7 linked regions of the Homo sapiens genome follow. The protein of the gene in region 1 purifies or fractionates together with the protein of each later gene. This does not show direct contact. Each region holds a gene or a part of one and is shown on either strand. Other genes may lie near its edges. The genes, in order: ACVR1, UBE3C, RIBC1, SLC26A2, DNAJC16, CD9 and SRSF4.

Evidence for each region.
Region 2: the proteins of ACVR1 (region 1) and UBE3C purify together in Homo sapiens (co-immunoprecipitation; one large-scale study listed by IntAct). This does not show direct contact.
Region 3: the proteins of ACVR1 (region 1) and RIBC1 purify together in Homo sapiens (co-immunoprecipitation; one large-scale study listed by IntAct). This does not show direct contact.
Region 4: the proteins of ACVR1 (region 1) and SLC26A2 purify together in Homo sapiens (co-immunoprecipitation; one large-scale study listed by IntAct). This does not show direct contact.
Region 5: the proteins of ACVR1 (region 1) and DNAJC16 purify together in Homo sapiens (co-immunoprecipitation; one large-scale study listed by IntAct). This does not show direct contact.
Region 6: the proteins of ACVR1 (region 1) and CD9 purify together in Homo sapiens (co-immunoprecipitation; one large-scale study listed by IntAct). This does not show direct contact.
Region 7: the proteins of ACVR1 (region 1) and SRSF4 purify together in Homo sapiens (co-immunoprecipitation; one large-scale study listed by IntAct). This does not show direct contact.

The regions. Positions count from the first base shown.
Region 1 is NC_000002.12:157,761,331-157,764,830, forward strand, and holds part of ACVR1 (activin receptor type-1 precursor), read right to left. Parts: intron 1-3,500. UniProt on the Homo sapiens protein: Bone morphogenetic protein (BMP) type I receptor that is involved in a wide variety of biological processes, including bone, heart, cartilage, nervous, and reproductive system development and regulation.
Region 2 is NC_000007.14:157,260,926-157,264,425, reverse strand, and holds part of UBE3C (ubiquitin-protein ligase E3C), read right to left. Parts: intron 1-3,500. UniProt on the Homo sapiens protein: E3 ubiquitin-protein ligase that specifically catalyzes 'Lys-29'- and 'Lys-48'-linked polyubiquitin chains.
Region 3 is NC_000023.11:53,425,873-53,428,743, reverse strand, and holds part of RIBC1 (RIB43A-like with coiled-coils protein 1), read right to left. Parts: intron 2,468-2,871; coding exon 2,351-2,467; intron 742-2,350; coding exon 660-741; intron 462-659; coding exon 117-461; coding exon of another isoform or gene 82-116; exon of another isoform or gene 1-81.
Region 4 is NC_000005.10:149,984,758-149,987,900, forward strand, and holds the end of SLC26A2 (sulfate transporter), read left to right. Parts: 3' UTR 1-2,643; downstream 2,644-3,143. UniProt on the Homo sapiens protein: Sulfate transporter which mediates sulfate uptake into chondrocytes in order to maintain adequate sulfation of proteoglycans which is needed for cartilage development.
Region 5 is NC_000001.11:15,533,348-15,536,847, reverse strand, and holds part of DNAJC16 (dnaJ homolog subfamily C member 16 isoform 1 precursor), read right to left. Parts: intron 2,612-3,500; coding exon 2,545-2,611; intron 374-2,544; coding exon 34-373; intron 1-33. UniProt on the Homo sapiens protein: Plays an important role in regulating the size of autophagosomes during the formation process.
Region 6 is NC_000012.12:6,227,900-6,231,399, reverse strand, and holds part of CD9 (CD9 antigen), read right to left. Parts: intron 1-3,500. UniProt on the Homo sapiens protein: Integral membrane protein associated with integrins, which regulates different processes, such as sperm-egg fusion, platelet activation and aggregation, and cell adhesion.
Region 7 is NC_000001.11:29,175,401-29,178,900, reverse strand, and holds part of SRSF4 (serine/arginine-rich splicing factor 4), read left to right. Parts: intron 1-3,182; exon of another isoform or gene 3,183-3,500. UniProt on the Homo sapiens protein: Plays a role in alternative splice site selection during pre-mRNA splicing. Represses the splicing of MAPT/Tau exon 10.

The sequences.
Region 1 (3,500 bases):
GTAAATTGTAGACCAATGCACTAAACCAATGTGGCCTGTGTTTGAGGTCCACAGGAAAACAGGCTCACATGTTAAATGTGAGCCTCTAAGTGGCTTAACAAGAAGCAAATTAAGCTCTCAAGCTCCACCACTGCTCTCACTAGTCTCCAAACACAAATTTCCAACAGTGTGAGATAGAGCATTTAAAGTAATTTATCACTACATAAAGGGCAGATTGCTATAAGCACTGCTTTATTCCTAAAGGAAGAGCTGCTTATCTGAGCAGTAATGCTGACCAAACCCACAGGCCTTTTCTCTAGAATCATGGAAACAGACAGCATTTAACTGGACCTCAATTGAAAGCACAACTCTCAGGTTAAATGGCTTTCAAATGCTTTCTTAAACCATGACTCATTCCAGAATTCCTCAGTCAATTAGGGAGACAGGCTTTCTTCACTGGCCAGTGGGGAGACACATACATGCATGCTTTATTTGTGGATGATTTTATGTTACTGATGCATATGCAGACTGACTGAAAATGATTCCTATAACATTTGTTGTAATGAAAAGTGCCAAATTGGAGCAAGCAGTCCCTGTAAACCACTGCAATGCAAATATCCCTTGTTGATCTCTCAAGCCATCTACAGAGAATGCTTCACCTTCCACTCCACGGCTTTGAATGTGGGGGATGACAATTTCATATAACATCAGGGAGCTAGCACACCTTATCTCATCCTTAATAATTAGCAAAGATACTGGCAACTGCATTACACTAAAACAGACAGGTTCCTCTTTCACCTATTTTTATAATCAACCCCAAGATTCTATGGACACTGTGAACATTTCCCAAATCCTATGCAATAGTCCCCCCACTTATCCTTCAGTTACCCGCAGTCAACTACAGTCCAAAAATAGGTAAGTACAGTACAATTAAGTATTTTGAGAGAGATACCATATTCACATAAATTTTATTATAGCATACTGCTATCATTGTTCCATTTTAGTGTTACTAATGTTCATCTTTTACTGTAGCTAATCTATAAATTAAACTATAATAGGTATGTAATAGGAAAAAACATAGTATATATAGAATCTGGTACTATCCTGAGTTTCAGGAATCCACTGGGAGTATTGGAAGGTATTTCTCAGGGAAAAGAGGGGACTACTGTATGCCCCTCCACCATTTGCAGAACCAAACAGTCAAAATATCAGAATATTTAAAAGGTGCAGGTTAAATAGAACATGGAGATATTCTGAAGATGGGAGAAGCTTCAAAGAACTTGTGGACATATTTTAAAGCCACCACTGCTAGGATCTCCAGGTGAGGCATAATTCCCCATCCCTTGAGTGTATGCTGGACTATTGAATAGACTATGGCATAAGTGACAGTGGGTATCTTCACAGTTAGGATATAACAGATGTTATAAAATTATAAAAGGCTTCCTGTTTGTCCCTCTCAGCTCACCATGCACCATGTTATAAAGACACTCAAGCAACCCTGTGGAGAGGTCCCCCTGCAAGGAGCTGAGACCTGCCGCCAATCATGGCTTTAAGTGTGTCCTCACAGAGTTGGAAACTCCAGCTCTGGTTGAGCGTTCAGATGATTGCAACCTCCACGAGACCCTGAGCCAGAACCACACCGCTAAGTCATTCCAAGATTCCTGACTCTCAAGAGACTGTGTGAGATAACAAATCTGTGTTGTTTTAAGATGCTAAATTTTACAGGTGATTTGTTCTTAGTAATAAGTAATTTTTACACTAAAGATGACAAAACAACCGGATGCAATTTGTAAACTTTGGCTGAGTTCCTCTTTGAAAAAACTGAAAACATCTGAAAATGAATATAAAATGATACTAGAGAATTATCAATAATCTGTAGATATGAAAAACTGATTATGAAGAAGATGCATTTTTAAGTATTTTCAAGGGATGAATTTTGAAGTATTGAGGGGTAAAGTGTTGTGATGCCTGTAACACTTTATTTTCAAATGGATTGGCAAAAATATACACATGGTCACAGATTGATAAAGCAAACATCACAAAGTTTTAACAATTATTGAATCTAGGTGTTCGGGATTTAAGTGATCATTATAACATTTGAATTTTTTAATAATAAAAAGAAAAACAGACGAGGCACAGTGGCTCACATCTGTAATCTCAACATTTTGGGAGGCCGAGATGGGATTGTCACTTGAGCTCAGGTGTTCAAGATCAGCCTGAGCAACATAGTGAGACCTCATTTCTACTAAGAACAAAAAAAAGTTAGCCAGGTGTGGTGGTACACACCTGTAGTCCCAGCTGTTTTGGAACGCTGAGGCAGGAAGATTGCTTAAGCCCAGTAGATCGAGGCTGCAGTGACCTATGATCAGCCTGGGCAACAGAATAAGATCCTCTCTCAATCAATTAATCAATATAATACTGATCTTTTTGCAGGATTAATCATAGAACACTATTTCTAATACATGATCCTTAATTGCTAGGTATATACTGGTAAGTTATATACAAATTATGGTCTTATAAGAGTTGTTTCCTGCACTGCATTGTTTTACCATATCCTGAATAATAACGCCTTAACAGATTTTTATACAAACCCATATATCTAATTGGAAGGTTACAAGCCAAAAGAAATGTAGTTGAAGAATTAATTAGCTGGACTTACTGCAAAGTTCCCCTCAACTCCTTCCCTACCAAGTCCCATAAACCAAAACCAAGAGCCACCTCAATTTGTCCACCCTCCCCAGACCACTGGATTATAACAGAAGCTACAACTTGAATCCTTATTGTTTACCAGACATTTATAATACTTCTGGGCCTTACCAGAATCCGGTGAGGTGGGCTTATTTTTTAGTTACATGAGTAATATATGATCACACTATATATATATTTTTTTTTAGACGAAGTCTCGCTCTGTCGCCCAGGCTGGAGTGCAATAGCGCGACCTCGGCTCACTGCAACCTCCGCCTCCTGGGTTCAAGCAATTCTGCTGCCTCAGCCTCCCCAGTAGCTGAGATTCCAGACGCACGCTACCACGCCCGGCTATTATTATTATTTTTCTTTTTTTTTTTTTTTTGTATTTTTAGTAGAGATGGGGTTTCATCACGTTCGCCAGGCTCATCTTGAACTCCTGACCTCAAGTGATCCTTCCGCCTCGGCCTCCCAAAGTGCTGGGATTACAAGCGTGAGCCACCGCGCCCGGCCACGATCACACTGTTATGCAAGTTTCTAACAACGCAGAAGTACAGGGCACAGCGTCAAGCCCTGGAGTTCCTCTTGGCTAACTCCCAACCCCATCCGCCTTCGCCCTCACTGTCCCTGTCTCACTGAGTGAAAGCAGTGTCAGCACTTGGGCCAGGTAAATAGATAAATAGACTTGCACAAAAATACAGGGTAATTGAGAAAGCCAGAATTTAAACCCAAATCGCCCTGGCTCTAAGAGCCATGGAATAAGCCATAAAAGTCCTCTACACCACAACTAAAAATGCCTGCAAAAAACTTTAGGGCCATGCTCTTTCAATGCTTAT
Region 2 (3,500 bases), on another chromosome or scaffold:
GGTGTGTGTGTGTGTGTGTAACAGGCCGAGCATGTTGACTCACACCTGTAGTACCAGGTGTGTGTGTGTAACAGGCCGAGCATGTTGGCTCACACCTGTAATACCAGGTGTGTGTGTGTGTGTGTGTGTAACAGGCCAAGCATGTTGGCTTACACCTGTAGTACCAGGTGTGTGTGTGTGTGTGTGTAACAGGCCGAGCATGTTGGCGCACCCCTGTAATACCAGGTGTGTGTCTCTGTGCTTAACAGGCCGAACATGTTGGCTCACACCTGTAATACCAGGTGTGTGTGTGTGCACGTAACAGGCTGAGCATGTTGGCTCACACCTGTAATACCAGGTGTGTGTGTGTGTAACAGGCCGAGCATGTTGGCTCACACCTGTAGTACCAGTGCTTTGGGAGGCTGGTGTGGGAGATCACTCAAGGCCAGGAGTTTCTGACAGCCTGGGCAACAGAGCAAGACCCTACCTCTACCAAAAACAGAAAAAATTATGCATATCTACATTAACACACACTCATGTAGGTAGATAAAACACATACTAATTAAAGGAAGGAAACATAAAAAAATAATGGTTAGAATGGGAGGAAATATAGGTTTCTTATACTTGATCACAATTTCCAATTTTCTATAATGAAAACATTACTTTTACTGAAAGGTAAAAAAAAAAAAAAAAAATCCAATATAAAAAAAGTGCTTTCGGTGCCAACAGCGCTCCCACAAAGTGAATGTTCCTAATACTTGCTAGACTTTTTTTTTTTTTTTTGAGTTGGCGTCTTGCTCTCTCAACAAGGCTGGTGTACAATGGCACAATCTCGGCTCACTGCAACCTCTGCCTCCCAGGTTCAAGCAATTCTCTTGCCTCAACCTCCCGAGTAGCTGGGACTATATGTGCCCATCATCACACCTAGCTAATTTTTGTATTTTTAGTAGAGATGGGGTTTCGCCATGTTGGCCAGGCTGGTCGAGAACTCCTGAACTCAGGTGATCCGCCCGCCTCAGCCTCCCAAAGTGCGTGAGCCACCACACCCGGCCCCCGTTCGACTTTCTGTAAGTGTGGCAAGCCCACAAAGCGACACGGCACAAAAGGGCACGGATTCTCTGTATGCCCGGGAAGGTGGCGTTAGGACAGGCGCCCGGGGAAGGTGGCGTTACGACAGGTGCCTGGGAAGGTGGCGTTAGGACAGGTGCCCGGGGAAGGTGGTGTTAGGACACGAAGCATAGCGGCTACGGTGGGCAGACTAAGCTGATTTTCCGGGAAAAGGCTAGAACTACGAAGAAGCTTGTGCTGAGGCTTGAGTGCGTTGAGCATAGGTGCAGATGTAAGAGGATGCTGGATATAAAGAGATGTGAGCATTCTGAACTGGGAGGACAGAAGAGGAGGAAGGGCCAAGACATCCAATTCTAAGTGTCATCTTTTGTTTTATTATGAAGACAATACAATCTTGAGTTTATGTTCAAAAAAATTTAAAAAATAGAAAAGGTAATTACCTTCTAACCATTGTAGTCAAATGTGAATCAAACTAGAGCAATGTCCCATTCTGCAGGAACCTTTGGAAGCACTGAAGCTGTCACAAAGCACAACAGGCACCCAACTGGCCACACCCACATTTCAGTTGGATTTTGTTTCAATTATATGTTGAGTTTAGCATATAATTTATGTTAAGGGTAAAACTAGTAAGAGCACAGCCCACAAAATGCTATGAAGAGGATGGGCGCGGTGGCTCATGCCTGTAATCCCAGCACTTTGGGAGGCTGAGGTGGGTGGATCACCGGAGGTCAGGAGTTCGAGACCAGCCTGGCCAACATGGTGAAATCCTGCCTCTACTAAAAATGCAAAAAAATTAGCTGGGGGTGGTGGTAGGTGCCTGTAATCCCACCTACTCGGGAGGCTGCGGCAGGAGAATCACTTGAACCCAGGAGGCAGAGGTTGCAGCGAGCTGAGATGGGCCATTGTACTCCAGCCTGGGCAACAGGAGCGAAACTCTATCTCAAAAAAAAAAAAAAAAAAAAAAAAAAAGCCTATGAAGAGACTTACATGATTCTTATTACTGATCTTTGTAGGTCTCTTTACTGTTAAATGTAAACTTCATTAAAAAATATATATGTGGCATATAATATGTGCTAAAATCCATTGTCTTTTTTTTTCTAATTATAGTTTATTTGCTCCTTTAAATCTCTCATAAAAATGTTAGAATGAGAACCAAAGGAGAACCAGAAATAACATTTATTACACTTATTATTCAGCATTCTGAGTACATGAGGGCAATAATTTTCACAAATGCTTGAATATACTAAAAAGGAAGCATTGCATTTTTGAAACAGAAAAGGATCTCTGAATGAAGGGGTCAGTGACTGCTGGCAAAGTCACTGGATAAATGAAAAGCTTAAAATATATTTTGCAATTAAATGCCACATTTTAGTGTTTCTTTCATAACGCTAATTGAATTTCCTACTTGGAGACTTAAAAGTAAAAAAATGAAGTTCTTCACTGAAATCTGAGTCAAGGGCACCATTTTGTGCATAATTAAATACAGTACAACGGGAATTTGCATTAATTCAGAGTGAGAAAAATCATTAATTTATTATGTGGCCTGATGGTAACTTAACAATTTTCTACAGCACTTTAATGATTTTTTGTCTGTAACAATCACATTTATTAAACATATTAAACTTTAATTAGCTTTAGCAGATGTTATTCTTCTCCAATAATCTGGCACTAAGGAGTTTCATAACTTTAAAATTATGCCTGCCTGCCTTTGCTATTTATAGTACTTCAACTGAAAGACATTCTCTTCCTTTAAGTCTACATTAATTCTGCAGCCCTGGCAAATCCAGGCATACTAAGCTAACCGGAAAGCCTAAATATTAAGATGATTTTTCCAAACTGGATGTCTAACATATAACAACTTCAAAAACACTTATCATGGAAAAATCAATTAAATTTCACATATGTTAGAACATTGAGAAAAATAAAAAAAACAGTAAGACCGTCTCATGGATGCTCAAAGTGTTTTCCACGGTATAACTCAATTATGATTGTGCGGGGTCTTGACTGGGGTAGGATTTTCCCTTTTAGTCTATTTGGGATTTTTTTTTTTTTTTTTTTTTTTTTTTTTTTTTCAGACAGAGTTTTGCTCTTGTTGCCCAGGCTGGAGTGCAATGGTGCAATCTTGGTTCACTGCAACCTCCACCTTCCGGGTTCAAGCCATTCTCCTGCCTCAGCCTCCCAAGTAGCTGGGACTACAGGCATGCACCACCATGCCCGGCTGATTTTTTTTTTGTATTTAGTAGAGGCGGGGTTTCATCATGTTGGTCAGGTTCGTCTTGAACTCCTGGCCTCAGGGGATCCACCCGCCTTGGCCTCCCAAAGTGCTGGGATTACAGGTGTGAGCCACCGCACCTGGCCAGTCTATTTGGGATTTTAAAAGCTCATGTAAATCCCTCTACTTCTGTTCCCCTAAACCTACGACGCTCACGCAGCACAAGTGGCCATGCACGAAC
Region 3 (2,871 bases), on another chromosome or scaffold:
CCCTATGGATAAGTGGACCTCCCCACACAGTTCTGGTCCCCTGGCTGCTGTACTCAGCTTAGGACAGATCCCCACTAGGCCTCAGGTCTCTGAGTCTGGAGGGCCGGGCTGCTTACCTGTATAATTCTCATCAACCTTGGCTTGCTGTTGCTCCTGCTGTTGCCTTTCCAAGTTGTACCTGAACTGCCCCTGCTGCATTCTCAGCCGTGTGTCCCTGTCTAGGTCTTCCCCAGAGAAGTACTGCAGGCTGGCTGGACCAGGATAGGTATTACTGTAACTAAGATAGGTTGGAAGCCCCTTCCAGACTTGGCCTGGATCCCAAAGACTAAATTCACGCCCGTTCTTGAGCTGCTGCTTCTGCTCCCGAAACTCCTGGACTTTCTTGGCCAGCTGACGTGTTCGATCTGCCTCTTCCTTCTCTAACATCTGGACTACCACATCATACTGCACCTGGCTGGTACCTGGGGGTGGTGAGCAAGGATATGGAGAAGATACCCCAGGAGGGACAGAGTCCACTTAGCATGTCCTCTACTCTCAAGGTCCATCCAATTTGTCCCACCACCCCAGGGCCTCAGGCCACAGAGGCAGAACTGCCCTACCTCAGCCCACTCGAGCTCTTTCTTTACACCCTTGTCTGGCCCCTGGCTTTTGGCTTTTACCATAAGCTGCCTCCTTGCTTCTTTCTGCTGCTTCCCGACGCTTTCGGTCTCCCACCTGGTTGTTCAGGGCCTGGACATCCACCTGATCCCAAAGAAAGGAGCACAATCAGAGTAGGGGCCCAGCAGGGGGCCTTCAATGTCCTACCACAAACTAATTAGAATTTACCTGTTTCAGAATCCTGTAGCTCCCCAGTACCTACTGGATAAAGTTCTAGCTCCTGAGCATGGTTTGTAAGCCTCTCCATGGTCTAGCCTCTGCCTCCTTCTCTGGCCTCATCTCTTAGTCCCACCTTACCCTTATGAGCTGTGCTTACAGTTCCCTGAATATCTTAGGCTGTTTTGAACCAATAGCCTTTGCTCAAGCTGCTCCCTCCACTTGGAACACTTTCCTCCCCTCTTTACACAAATTCCAATTTGTCCTTCGAGACCAGCTCAGCCTTCACTTTCCTGACCCCTCAGGCAGGTTCTACTCCTGTAGAATCTAGAACCCACTGTCTACATTATATTGATGTTCGCCTCTCTGTATTCTCTCCTCCACCAGACTGTGAACCCTTTCAGGGCAGAAACTGGGCCTTAGTCATTTTCGTATCCCCACTGCCCAACACAGTGCTTGGCACAGAGCAGGCCCCGAGGAAATGCTTGTCAGCTTGTCAGCTGGATCTCAATCAGAACACTAATACCCTAGCCAACTTCTTACGGCAGGCACTATGCACTGGTTTTCAAAGCTGCCACTCTGTGTTAACACTCACCTGACTTCCTTCAGCCTCATTTTACAGAAGAGGAGCCTGGGGCTCAGAGAAGACAGGTGATTTATCCAAAGCCACACACATAACAGTCAGCAGACCTGGCCTTAAATACTTACGGGGTCTTTTCCAGAATACCATGCTGCATCCCCCCTCTATCCACTCACCTAGCAATCTTTTGTTTCTTAAACTATCAATATTTTCTCTTTTATTATAATTCATTTATCACATTTCAAAATCATACAAAAAGGAATACAGTTTAGTGAGGCGTAAGTGTCCCTTCCATCTCTGTCTCTCAGCCTGGTTAAGTTTCTCAACATAGCCTTGCAGAGATAGTTTAGGTATATGCAGTAATTTTGAGACAGGGTCTCACTGTTGCTCAGGCTGGAGTGCAATGGTGTGATCTCGGCTCACTGTAACCTGCTCCTCCTGGATTCAAGTGATTCTTGTGCTTCAGCCTCCCAAGTAGCTGGGATTATAGGCATGCACAACCACGCCCAGCTAATTTTTGTATTTTCAGTAGAGACAGGGTTTCACCACGTTGGCCAGGCTGGTCTTTAACTCCTGACCTTGTGTGATCTGCTCACCTCAGCCTCCTAAAGTGCTGGGATTACAGGTGTAAGCCACTGCACCCGGACTCCAAATATTCTTTAGGCCTCTTTTAGCTCCATGTTGCCTGTCTCAAGAACCAGGTCACATGGCCCAGAGCTGACTGGAGAAGGGTCAGCCGTCTCCCCTAGTCTCTTCCCCTGCACTGACCTATCCCTCTTCCCAAGCTCTTCCCAGGCCTGTAGGGGTGGGTGCCTTCTCTCCCTCTCTTTCCTTTCCTGCCCTAGGGGCCTACTTGAATCAGGGGAAGGGCTATCATGGGCACTGTTACACATTCCTCTCCAGGTGTAAGAGTGAGGTGGCCCTGATCCTGAGCAACAGTCCCTACTACCCACTCACCCCCATGACTCGGTTCCGCACATTGAAGAATCGGTTTTGTCGCTCTTTTTCTCGATTTCTTCTAGCCTCGATGGCTGCTGCTTCCTTGGTATCTGTTGACTGTTTTATGTTATACATCTGGAGCAAAAGGGAGGTGGAATGGCCCATCAGTGCCGACCACCGTCTTTGACTACACGCCACCCCCATTCCTTTCTCCCTATAATATTTCAGCAGTTATTGATTCCTACTGATTTTACTTCCTGATATATTTCGTATCTGTGCCCTCCATCTCTGCTGTCACCAGCTTAATTCAGGCCTCACAATCTGGTGTCAGGCAGTATCTCAGGAGCCCCACTGGGTTCTCTTGCTCCAACGTTACCCTCTCTGCACTGGATTTCTCTGCACTGGCTACCAGAGTGATCTTTGGGAAGCAAATCTGACCATGGCACTCCTCAGCGTAAAGCCTTTGAAAGCACCTTTAAAGCAATGGCTCCCCAGTGCTTATAAGGCCCAACCCCCTTTGCCAGATTTATAAGGTTCTT
Region 4 (3,143 bases), on another chromosome or scaffold:
AATATCTTGCTTACTCTAAACTTTAGAGTCTAAATGAAGCTTTTTCTCAGTACAAGATTCTGAGTATCATAAAATGGTTATTTAATTGAAACGTAGTGTGGTATACTCTTGATGGTTAGAACTCTTACAGCCTTATTTATTTTTAAGTTTGTTACAGCCAAAGGGTTGGAGTGTGCCAGTGCACAGGTAGACTAAGGAAAACATTATAGAGGAGTGAAGAGAACAGACCATTGAAAAGACTATTATCTGACCAGCGGAGGCAGAAAAGAGAGGAACCCAGTTGAATAGGATCCAATCCCTGGTTAGCCTCTACACAATAATAGGGAGACAAGGATTAGGAGCCATACCTCCCAGAGCAAGGTATCTTTCTAGAGCAAATTTCTCTTTCTAGAAGGGGAGGGTCACAGGGTCACAGATTCACCAAAGCTGAAAGGGCTGAGGAGCTCATGGTAGCCTGGGCTGACCTACTCTGGAGCACGGTGTCTTCCTTCTAAACTGAGTGACTGTAGTACTATCTGTGCCTCTGATGGTAATAAAACTGACAAGATGTCTAATTTTTTTTTAAGTAGGACCAAAGGAAAACAAGATTTAGATAGTCTGACTTTGCTTTTGAACAACAGACATTGCAAGTCAAAATTGTTGTCAAATTTACATATGGTAAATGATGAACTTTAAAAATGTGTCCAGGTGTTAGATGAGTTCATTAGACTCTTTTAATGCTAATGGCTAGTACGTTTAAACAAAACAGCAGTTCTCTGCTGCAATATTCCCATTGACCACTTAAATGACCATAAGTGGTCATTTAAGAACATGTTAGGGTTAGCCCTGATCTGAATATAAAAGTGAGAAAAGGGCTACAGTGCATTTCTTGGTAACTTAAACTGAGTCTTGAAGTTATAATGATCCATTCGAGTTCTGTGATCCTTATTGTTCTTAATTGTGTTTCTCTACGTATTGTTACAGATGAGCCATACGTTTCTTTGTATCAATGTAGACATGACTTCAGATACCTCTGAGGACCTACCCAGCAGTCTAGGACCCTGGGCCAAGTGCTGGGACTATGGTACTAAATCCAGTAGATGGGCTGTGTAGCAACTCTCCCAGGGAACACACTAGGGTACTTAGGGAGGTGCTTTGTGGAGCATGTTGAAGCTTTGAGATCTGAGCAGGAGGCAGTGATGTCCCTGGTCTATTCAGGGAAAGATTTCAGTGTGAAATGGTAAACATCCAATTGACAGGATTTAGATTTTGCTTAGTTTTTCTGCTTTTTAATGTTTCTATCCCCCATCTCAGTGTTTTCTTTATCCATCCCAGTGATGCCTTATTTGAAACTGGGCTTAAACTGCAAAAAGAATGAAGTTGGATTTAGGAAGCTGTTAGATCATTGAGTGGTGTTGAGAGTGAAGTTTCACTAGCAGGGAAGTTTCCTTGAGCCTAAAATAAAAAGAAAAAATTAAAAAGAATCAGTTTTTTTAATTAAAAAAATAGAAAGCTGTTAGGCTCCTAATTCGTGGGGTTTTTTTTTGTAAAAACAGTTTAGATAATCCTGAATGCAATCATTAACTTGGTTGCTAATTACAAGAATGAAAATTATAATGGAAAAGGACAAAATAATATACCAGCTGGTTTGTTATTATAGTCCGTGTATTAAAATACTATTGAAATACGTTAAAGGTAAATTTTTAAGGTTTAAAAAAAATTTAGTAACTTACAGGGATGGAGAATTTAGATGTCAGAGGTGGGGAGATTTATTTTTATAAGGTAATTTTTATCCTGATAAGGACTTAAAAAAAAGTTTTGCAACTGAAATTTTAAAGTAAACATGTTAAGTACAGTTAAAAAGTAAGCATTGTAGTAAATAGTGGATTCTCTGGTGTGTATTTTTTATCTCAGTGTTGAAAATTGGAAAAGAATGGACTGAAGTCTAAAAACTGGAATAATGAAGGACACTAAATGCCTTTATTGTAGATACTATGTTTGTAAGTCTATAGCTAAGCAACTTAAGCCAAAAAGGTCTTTCAACTGAAGCTTTAATCAACTTATTTTGGAGATGTTCTCTTCCCTTATCTCATGCGTCATCCCTAAAATAATAAGATACATGGGATCAAATAGCCCTTGCCTTTTCAACACAAATCAGTTGGAAAATTATGGTTTGAGTCCTGTTGCTGCCATGGCTTCTGTTTCTCAGAAATGAGTGTGTATGAACATACCAATCTATGTAATAGGCTACCTTTTTTTGTCTTCTTTGGAACTTTGTACACAAACCAAGACAATATCAGGGTGACAGGTGAATGAACTTAAATTCTCAGTCTTGTCTATTCACCAAAAAAGTATACTGCCTGTTTTTTCTTTAATTATTCAAGGTTGATGACTTTTAGGAACATGTTTTATACTGTATTTTTTAATTAAAGCAAGTGCCTTGATGTAATTCCATGTAAATCATTGCTTAACCCTCTTATGGGATGAGGATGAGTTATTAATGTATTGCAGCCTACTGGAAAGGAGGGGGAGTTGGTTAATAGCAGATACTTTTCTTCTAGAAGCTTATGTTTTATGCTGTTTATTATGTAAGATCCTGTATGTGTGTTGAGATTTAGAGGTTTCATTTGTTTTGTCTGCTAATAAATTGTTACTCTAATAATACATTACTCTGTATTTAAATTATTTAAGTGCAAGGAGGGTTCTGACTAAAACACATTTAGGCCCCAGTGAGTTTTAAAATACCATCTGTTGGCCAGGCTCAGTGGCCCACACCTATAATCCCAGCATTTTGGGAGGCTCAGGCGGGTGGATCACCTGAAGTCAGGAGTTCAAGACCAGCCTGGCCAACGTGGTGAAACCCCGTCTCTACTAAAAATGCAAAAATTAGCTGGGTTTGGTGGTGCACACCTGTAGTCCCAGCTACTCAGGAGGCTGGGGCATGAGAATTGCTTGAACATGGGAGGCAGAGGTTGCAGTGAGCCGAGATCACACCACTGCACTCCAGGCTGGGTGACAGAGCGAGACTCTGTCTCAAAAAAATACATAAATAAAATAAAATATCATGTGTTAGGCTGGGCACGGTGGCTCACGCCTGTAATCCCAGCACTTTGGGAGGCTGAGGCAGGTGGATCACGAGGTCAGGAGTTCAAGACCAGCCTGGC
Region 5 (3,500 bases), on another chromosome or scaffold:
ATAAATATCTTTCAGTGAATAAAATTATCTTACCCAATTCTTCCAGTTCTTGAATGACTTCTTTCCACACAGGCTCGATATGAATGCAGCTAAAGCACCAATCGGAGGTGATCTTGATGAGGTAGGGTTTCTTGAAGCTATCTGGAACCACTTCATTCACATAATGTGAAAAGTGCAATAAATACTTTTCGTCAATTGAGTCCCGCCGTTCAGAATTAAAAGGGAAGTGAAAAAAGGATTCATCAAAATAAAAATTTTCATGGAAATGGCGGAAGCGATACTCTCGCTGCTGTTGCTGCTTCTGGTAGCCCTGGTTCTCTCCAGCGTCTCCATATTGATCATAATTTGATCTCTTTTCTTCATTTGAAAGAATCTATAAAGGAAGAAAAAAATCTAAACAACAACAAAAGGTTCATCCAAAAGACTTTTTTGTAAGCAGCTTGAAAGACATAGGAAGAAAATAAATGCAGCCAGTCGTGGTGGCTCACACCTGTAATCCCAGCACTTTGGGAGGCTGAGGCGGGTGGATCACTTGAGGTCGGGAGTTTGAGATCAGCCTGACCAACATGGAGAAACCCCGTCTCTACTAAAAATACAAAAAATCAAATCAGCCGGGAGTGGTGGCGCATGCCTGTAATCCCAGCTACTCGGGAGGCTGAGGTAGGAGAATTGCTTGAACCCAGGAGGCGGAGGTTGAGGTGAGCCGAGATGGTGCCACTGCACTCCAGCCTAGGCAACAAGAGCGAAACTCCGTCTCAAAAAAAAAAAAAAAAAAGAAAAGAAAAGAAAAGAAAAGAAATGTAAAAATTATGACACGATTATGTGAGGCCAAGGTTTGGAGGATCCCTTGAAGCCAGGAGTTCAAGACCAGCCTGGACCACATAGCATGACTTTGCTACAAAAAGAAAAAAAAAAATCGGCCAGGCATGGTGGTGCGTGCCTATAGTCCTAGCTACTTGGGAGGGTGAGGTGAGTGGGAGATTGCTTGAGCCCAGTAGTTGAAGGCTGCAGTGAGCTGTGATCGCATCACTGTACTCCAGCCTGGGTGACAGAGACAGACTGTCTCTTAAGAAAAAAGAAAAAAGATTATGACATAATTAGATATTCTTTTTCTTTTCGAGATAGAGTCTCACTCTGTCACCCAGGCTGGAGTGAAGTGGCGTGATCACAGCTCACTGCAGCCTCCATCTCTCAGGGTCAACCTTCCATCTCAGCCTCCTGAGTAGCTAGGACCATCAGCACATGCCACCATGCCTGGCTAATTTTTGTATTTTTCACCATGTTGTCTAGGCTGGTCCTGAATTCCTCAGCTTAAGCGATCTGCATGCCTCAGCCTCCCCAAGTGCTGGGATTACAGGGCGTGAGCAGCCACTGGGTCCAGCCGATTAGATATTCTAAATGCAGTCATTCAAAAGAATGAGAAACTCTTCTTTCACTAGAGAAACATTAAAGAACATTCAAGACTAAAATATTTCAGTTTAGGTACTCATGCTCATCTTGGCATTAAAGATTTCAAACTACCACAACATTAAACACTTCAGCAAAACAAATAAAATAACATAATGTTGATCACCAGGGCTCAATGACAAGAAAATTGACCTGGTCATACCTGGTGAGTTGGACCAATTCAAACCAAGATAAGAAAAGCTATGAACACCAAATAGCTATAGTCTAGTGCCTTGTCTGTTAATTTACTTTGTTTTACAAAATAACTTTGAAGTCTAAAATTCAGGAATCTGTTTTAGAATGATGACGTGTTATTCTATGAGCTAAGCACTGTCTGCTGAAGGGCATTCCCTATACAAATCAGAAAGCCACTGAATTCTCTTTGATGCATATTCCAGACCAATCTACTTGAGCTGACATACTGGAAAATTACTGAAAATCTTGTGTTTAAATGTATTTGTTACCTCGTGCCACTTTAATAAATATAGGCGATTTGGTATGTGATTCTTTAATGCATATTTCTAAGAAGGCAATAGTGACACATACAGACATACTCAGGGTAATTCTACAATTCTAGTTAAAGCCTTTAAAATAGGCCAGTTTTTCCAAGAGCTGAAGTGTTCAGGCACTTGTTCCAATATACTGGATGTGGCCAAATATGTTCTATTATTTTTTATTTTATTTTATTTTTTGAGACGGTCTCCCTCTGTTACCCAGGCCTCGATCTCTGCTCACTGCAACCTCCCACTCCCGGGTTCAAGCAATTCTCCTGCCTAAGCCTCCTGAGTAGCTGGGATTACAGGCACGTGCCACCACGCCCGGCGAATTTTTTTTGTATTTTTAGTAAAGACAGGGTTTCAGCATGTTGGTCAGGCTGGTCTCGAACTCCTGACCTCGTGATCCACCCACCTCGGCCTCCCAAAGTGCTGGGATTACAGGCATGAGCCACCGCATCCAGCCTGTTCTCTCTATTATAATCTAGAAACTGCATCAAGGGCATGGGGAACATGACCTTTCTGACAACTTTACAAAACTCATCACCTCCTAAGGCATATTTTGTAAGAGCTAATGGATGCATCACAAAGCTGGACACGATACCTCGTAAGCCTTACTGATTTGAATGAACTTGTCTTCTGCTCCAGGATCTTTGTTTTTGTCAGGATGCCTGAAACACAAACAGGCAGGCGGTGAGAAAGGATGTAACTTTTAATGCACAGTCATTTAATGTCCTTGTCCACAGAGTTCACTACAGAGGCAGACGGAGGGCTATTTTGTTAGGAAAGTTTCTTAAAATAAATGATAGAGGCAATCAGTTGTTTTACATGACTATAATAAATGAAACTTTGAAACAGGCTATTTTTTCCCAAAGCACTCCAGCAGGGCATGTTTTCAAAGCACCATATAATACTGCAGCATTTCACAGAGGAAGGTGGGAAATGGTGCATGTCTGTACACTGCTCCCAAACACTGCTAAAGCTGGCTGAAGGCTAAGTCGTTTATCCATAAGAACCCATGTCTTCTCCTAGGATGGCAACGTTTCATCCCAATGCTAGAATGATATCAGGATGCTAGAATGCTGTTGTTTCTTCTGATAACACAGGTAGACATGAGAAATAGCTTTTAGGATAGACTAAATTCATTTAGTAACAATCAGGTTTCAAACTGCACTTGTGCCTGACTTTCAAATTAGAACATTTTTCGTTATTATTACGATTGCTTTTTACCTGGATAAAGATTTCAAGGCCACTGTTTTTTTTGTTTTTTTGTTTTTTTTGAGACAGGGTCTCACTCTGTTGCCCAGACTGGAATGCAGTGGTACAATCTTGGCGCACTGCAACCTCTGCCTCCCAGGCTCAAGCGATTCTCTTGCCTCAGCCTCCCGAGTAGCTGGGATTACAGGCCTGCGCCACTATCACCCGGCTAATTTTTGTATTTTTAGTAGAGATGGGGTTTCACCATGTTGGCTGGGCTGGTCTCAAACTCCTGACCTCAAATGATCCACCTGTCTCGGCCTCCAAAAGTGTTGGGAATACAGGCGTGAGCCACCACGCCCG
Region 6 (3,500 bases), on another chromosome or scaffold:
GATCTGTGACTCTGGGGAAGCCACTTAACCTCTCTGTGCAACAGTTTTCTATCTGTAAAACAGGAGTAGCAATAATGCCCACTTCCAGGATTGCTGTGAGGATTAAGTGATATAATCCACATGTGCACAACAAATGCTAGCTGTTGTTAATCTCAATTATACCAAGCATGAGTAACAATCATTAATAATCACCATGGTGAATTTTAACCTGCTGCTGTATCCCTACTGTCCTTTCACTGGGACCAGAGAGATATCCTTGATGTAGGGGCTGAAAACACGCACGCGAGAGAGAAAGTCTGTGATGTTTCCCCACAATACACAGCAGGACACTCGATGAGAACCCTCGGCAGGTGACACGCTGACTTCACTGTCCCACATCTGCACCCCGAGCAGGGGTGAGACTTTGCAGGCAACAAACCATGCAGTCTGCCCGCAGCTGAGGCTCACGGGCAGCACAGAGCAGAATGCACACAGAGAGCGTTTGTTCCTCCCCCTTCTCCCCCACATCCGTCGTGAGGTCAAGTCACGTGGGGTTACTGGCAAACCCCATGTTGCAAGAATATGGGTATTGTTCTTGTGCATGCCTGGCCCACACTGGGCAAGGGGACAAATGTAGCTTGTCCTCAAGTCAGGTCGCATCTTCCTGGGCAGTCAAACGCTGTTGAGGCCACAAGCTGGGCTTGGGGAGGCTGTGCAGCCCCATGCATGGAGCACTGGGTAAGAGGGCAGCCTCCTTTGGTTCTCTCACATGGGGACAGTAGAAAGGCCCCAGTTTCTCCCCATCTAATGGGGGCAAGTCAAGGAAGGATGAGGTCACTCCTTTGAGCTCCATAGCAGGGGCTGAATAAACAGGAGGTATTAAGAGATCAAAAGGATTTACAAACACATGAAATACCGTGGAGTGGGAACGAACAGGCAGACATGTTTTCTCTAAGTCCAGATCCCAGTTCTTGAACCTGGCGGTCCTGGCAGAGGCCAAGGGAATTGGATTAGCTGCAAGTGAGCTACTAAAGAGAAAGTATTTCCCACGCAGAGAAAGAGAACATGCTCCTAATGGGGCTTGTGGTTAATATTAAATATTCATGCTAGGGCTCAGCAGAGGAAGATTTTAGGATCACGGGTTTTGTGGGCTTTAAATCTTGCGTGGATGGCTACGGATCTGCAGTGCCTAGCTTTAGCCCTCTCTAGTCACGGGAAAAGGGAAGCGATCCCCTGGCAGCTGTGTTCGGGGACTCAGCAGCAGCCGGCAAGCTACAGGACAGCTCATCTGGAAGCAGGCCCCATGGAAGTCACGGAACCACTGCAGGGCTCGGGCTGGTTTTTACAAGGGCTATTCAGTGCTTCCCTTTGGAGAAGCTACTCATCGCTTACACCCCAAGCTTGTTAGCCAAGGCTGCTGTTGATAAATGACAAAGTGTTCCCCTTTATAAAACAAGCGAATGTTAGCTTGCTGTCTGACTCATGGAAAAAGTTATCCATCACAGAGCCTTCTCTAGGATTACGGTATTAATTTGCTTAAGGGTTGTTTATTCTGCTTTTTTCAGGCTGACATTACAGGCCCAGAAAAAAAAAAAAAAAAGAAAGGCTGGTGTAGCAGCAGTAGCATATGCCAGCGTGTCCTTTACACAAGAAATGGAACAGTGTTTTTCACTGTTCACCAGGGCTCTCAGTTTAGCCCAGGGAGAGGACACAGCAGGCTCCCGTCCCTACACCAGCTCTGTCCTGCAAACAGCACTCACCACGCCCGTTTGTGTGAAGGAGAACAAAATCCGGTAGGGCCTCTGGCCTGCAATAAAAGTTTATTATATCCAAATAACTCCACCAGGTGTTCAAAGGAGCCCTACCTCTGCCCCGACTGGTTTCGTCTTGGTTCCCGCCCTCCCGAGTTCACGGGAATAAGTGCCACAATGGAATTCCATTTGCCACACGCTGTACTTCTTTGCCCCAGAGGGGAGTGGGTGTGTAAGCTGTGCTGTGGTTGTGTAAGCTGTGCTGGTTTCAGGAGGGAGAAAAATGAAGCCCAGAGCAATAAAATGAACTGCCCCAGGTCACAAGCCAGGATGGGGATGCCAGCTTACTAAGGCCAAGTGTCGCGTGTCCTGAAAATCACCAGGCACCTCATCATGGATAGGGGGCTGGCCGAGGAAGGGGGGGCATTCACGGCCTCTGGCTGGAGCCCCCCTAGATGCCCTCATTCAGCAGCCATGGTTCTGGAGGGACACCAGGGAGCTGGGAAAGGCTGCTGGCCTAGGACCAAGAAAATGAAGTTCCCCAACAAGTTTGCAGCCTGGGATTAGGGATCTTGCTGACGGGCTGAATCTCCAGGCCTGGATTGGAGAGAAGGCCCATATAAGGCTGTCAGCTGCTCTGGACTTACCATAGACTGTTCTGAATGTTGGAAAGGTTTTCACTTGCTTTTCTGCCTGGTTATATACTCTTTCTCTACTTGGTAAGCTGTGGCCCCACTGGAGAAAAGACACCCCTGGGCTGTTCAGGTTTCCTGAAAAGTCAGCTGCATGGTCAGGCTGGCCTGTGGGTTGCTCTGCAGACAGTTGGTGGCCCAGTGCAAGGGGCGGTCACCCCATGACTATTCCTTGGAAAAGTAGCCAGGGTGTGGCTGGCACTCCAAGCTCATCTGCTAGGAGAAGGGCTCTGGGCCAGTACAGAAGGCTGGTCTCACAGCCTCGTGGGGAAGGGGACACAGAGCGACGCCTCCTTGGCCCTTTGCCCATGGACGACAATTATTATTTCCTAAAGCGTTCAGTGACGTTCAGGGCATAGCTCAGACCTAAGCAGTGCTCAGAGTGCTGTGCTGCTGTTTTTTTTTTTTTTTTTTTTTTTGAGATGGAGTCCCGCTCTGTCTCCCAGGCTGGAGACAGAGCCTCAGTGGTGTGATCTCAGCTCTCTGCAACCTCTGCCTCCCAGGTTCAAGAGATTCTTGTGCCTCAGCCTCCCGAGTAGCTGGGATTATAGGTGCACGCCACTACGCCCAGCTAATTTTTGTATTTTTAGTAGAAGTGGGGTTTTGCCATGTTGGCCAGGCTGGTGTCGAACTCCTGACCTCGGGTGATCTGCCTGCCTCGGCCTCCCAAAGTGCTAGAGGCTGAGGCGGACGGATCACCTGAGATCAGGGCTGATCACTGTGCCCAGACACAGTGCTGCTGTTCTAACTTTACCGTGCATCATCCCCCTTGCCGGCGCTTCTGCAGGCAGAACGAAGTCTTCAAAGCTCCGCTCTCTTCCCCGAATGGGGTGTCGCTGCAAAGGATCTGTATTTCCCTGGCAGAGCTAAGTGGACAGTGGCCCTTAGACCCCAACTAGGGGATCTGTGTCTCTTTGGGGTTGTGCCTTCAAATCACCCTCCTGGTCACTTCAGGTAGGACCACCGGCCACCAGCAGGGCCCTGCAATGACCTGCAGGATCTGAATCCTGTGAGGTTCCCAGAGGTGAGCCCCAGCTCCTCTAATGGCACTCACCATTCTCCTGCCACCCTGCAGCTT
Region 7 (3,500 bases), on another chromosome or scaffold:
ATCATTGAGGAATCATTACAGAGGAAAACGACTTCTGGGAAGAAGACCAATGGTAAAGATGTATTTCAAGCAAAAATTGCCTGTATGGCAAAAACGCTGGAGAGTCTGAAAGGAAGGAGTGAGTACAAAAGAAAAAGCATAACTTAGCTACGTATGTAAGCTTATAGTCCCCTAGCAGAAGGGCAGTGGATCTCCCTACTGGGAAGCATGTTTGAACATATCTAGATTGTGATTAGTAATTGAAACTCAGAGGCCGGGCGCGGTGGCCTGTAATCCCAGCACTTTGGGAGGCCGAGGCGGGCAGATGACGAGGTCAGGAGATCGAGACCATCCTGGTTAAGATGGTGAAACCCCGTCTCTACTAAAAATGAAAATAAAAATTAAAAAAAAGTAGCCGGGCATGGTGGCAGGCACCTGTAGTCCCAGCTACTCGAGAGGCTGAGGCAGGAGAATGGCGTGAACCTGGGAGGTGGAGCTTGCAGTGAGCCGAGATCGTGCCACTGCACTCCAGCCTGGGCGACAGCGAGACTCTGTCTCAAAAAAAAAAGTAATTGAAACTCAGAAACAGATTTTGGATGCTTTAGATAGGTCTTTGAAGAATTGCTGGAGTTCAGATTTGTAGAAGTGAGATGTATCAGTAGATATGTTAGGCTGAAGGGTTGTAAGTTAAGTTTAGAATTAAGGCATAAAATGCTTGTCTAGACCGGTCACGGTGGCTCACACCTGTAATCCCATCACCTTGGGAGGCCGAGGTAGGTGGATCACTTGAAGTCAGGGGTTTGAGACCAGCCTGGCCAACATGGTGAAACCCCATCTCTACTAAAAATACAAAGATTAGCTGGGTGTGGTGGTGGGCACCTGTAATCCCAGCTCCTCTAGAGGCTAAGGCAGGAGAATTGCTTGAACCTGGGAGGTGGAGGTTGCAGTGAGCAGAGATTGCATCACTGCACTCCAACCTAGGCAACAGAGCAAGACTCTGTCTCAAAAAAAAAAAAAAAAAAAAAAAATCTTGTGTAATAGGAAGATGACCAAATAAGGAAACAAATGAGTTCTTCAAAGGAGATTTAGTGTTCAGGAAAGGATTCTATGGACCCTGAGAGGGTTTGGAGAAGAGGTGTGTAAGCAAGAGTTCATTGCCTACCGTTTTATTACACCAGGCATCGCTAATGTAGATTGCCACTGTTCTAGAGAACTTTTTGAAAGATGGTTTGGGACCACAAATACAACGAAGATCTCCCAGGATCATATAGACCATTCCATTTCCCATTAAGGTCTCCTACTTTTCTACCCGCCCCATAAACTTCAAGAGTCACTGCAAGGGCCTGGCACGGTGGCTCACACCTGTAACCCCGGCACTTTGAGAGGCCAAGGCAGGCAGATCACCCAAGGTCATAAGTTCAAGACCAGCCTGACCAACATGGAGAAACCCCTGTCTCTACTAAAAATACAAAGTTAGCCGGGCGTCGTGGCACATGCCTGTAATCCTGGCTACTCGGGAGGCTGAGGCAAGAGAATCACTTGAACCTCAGAGGCATAGGTTGCGGTGAGCCGAGATCCTGCCATTGCACTCCAGCCTGGGCAACAAGAGCAAAACTTCGTCTCAAAAAAAAAAAAAAACAAAAAGAGTTACTGTAGGGAAGGGAGGGGCAGGAATCCTAGATGCACGTCAAGGAAGCAACAATATTAGCAGCACTTGTTTATACCCTTTCAGCTCTGTGGTAACTTTTGTTGGCTTTGATTGTATATAGATTTTATTTTTTATAATAAGCCATTTCATGTAAAGTGTGAAAGAATTTTGAGTACACTAGTTGCCCTTTTGTCATAAAATCTTGTGGTTTTAGTCAGATCTTTATATCTTAGCTTTTCCATATTTTAGTTAATGAGTAAAACTTACCACATATTAAGATTATTTTGCCTGTCTAGTAGCTAGAAGGATAAACCCCCAGATCATTGAAATTTATAGTTTTATTTTTTAGTTCAAGTCATGAATTAAAACTCTCAAGGGAAACTTGGATTTAAACTTCAGAACCTGCGTTTCATGGAACAGTGAAATCATGAATAGCCTGAATTTTCAGGGGATGTTGTGGTCTGTTTAGTCATGCTATCTAATTATTACCAGAAAATTTTTGTTTTCGCCCTTGTTTAATGCACCATAATTTTTTTAATGTGGAGTTCAAGACTCTTCGAGTGAGGCAGGTCGTTGTTGTGTATGTCACTGCTCACTGGAGGGCATTATTAAGCCTTAGATACTGAGAAGAATTACTGCCAACCCCAGCACCTACACAGGGATTTTTCTCTTTTGACTCCTGAATTCTTGACAGATTAGGAAGTATATAGTTAGTTTAATGTTCCAGGTTGCTGGTTTCTGGTTAGATGAGCTGTTACAGTATTTTTTTCTTTTTTTTTTTTTTAAAGTTTTTAGTTTTTAATTCTCCCAAGGCTTCTCCCAAGGCTCTGTCATTCATCGTTACCGTATTCTTAATCATGAGAGGGATTATCTTCACCCACCACCAAGTGGCAGAGAAGTGCTTTATCATTTTTATGATAATGCTATAACTAATGAGTGACAAAAGAAAAAGCAAACACTTTGCCTTTAGGAACCCTACCACCTATTTGTTGTTTTTTTGTTTTTTGTTTTTTGTTTTTTTTGAGATGGAGTCTTGCTCTGTCGCCCAGGCTGGAGTGCAGTGGTACAATCTCAGCTCACTGCAACTTCCGCCTTTTGGGTTCAAGCAATTCTCCTGCCTCAGCCTCCCAAGTAGCTGGGACTACAGGCGCGTGCCACCACGCCCGGCTAATTTTTTGTATTTTTAGTAGAGACAGGGTTTCACCGTGTTAGGCAGGATGGTCTTGATCTCCTGACCTCATGATCCACCTGCCTCGGCCTCCCAAAGTGCTGGGATTACAGGTGTGAGCCACCATGCCCGGCCACCTTTTTGTTTTTAAGCCCTTCTGCCAGCCTCAGAAATAGCATCCCATTTGCACTGGCATGTACAAAGCATTAGAGTCTATGTTAAGAAAAGGAAGACATTTGGTTCTGGATTAATTTTAGGATTATCTAAGAAGAGGTTAAAACAAGTTTTGTTTAAAAGCGTGTTTGAATAACTCTCTTTATGTATAGTTAAAATTAAAGACCCACTCTTAATTTTCAAAGTAGCACATATTTATAATTGGAAATTTTTTTTTTTTTTTTTTTTTTTTTTTTTGAGACAGCGTCTGGCTCTGTCGCCCAGGCTGGAGTGCAGTGGCGCAATCTCGGCTCACTGCAAGCTCCGCCTCCTGGGTTCACGCCATTCTCCTGCCTCAGCCTCTCAAGTAGCTGGGACTACAGGAGCCCGCCACCGCTCCCGGCTAATTTTTTGTATTTTTAGTAGAGACGGGGTTTCACTGTGTTACCCAGGATGGTCTCGATCTCCTGACCTCATGATCCACCCGCCTCGGCCTCCCAAAGTGCTGGGATTACAGGCGTGAGCCACCACGCCCGGCCGGAAATTTTTTTT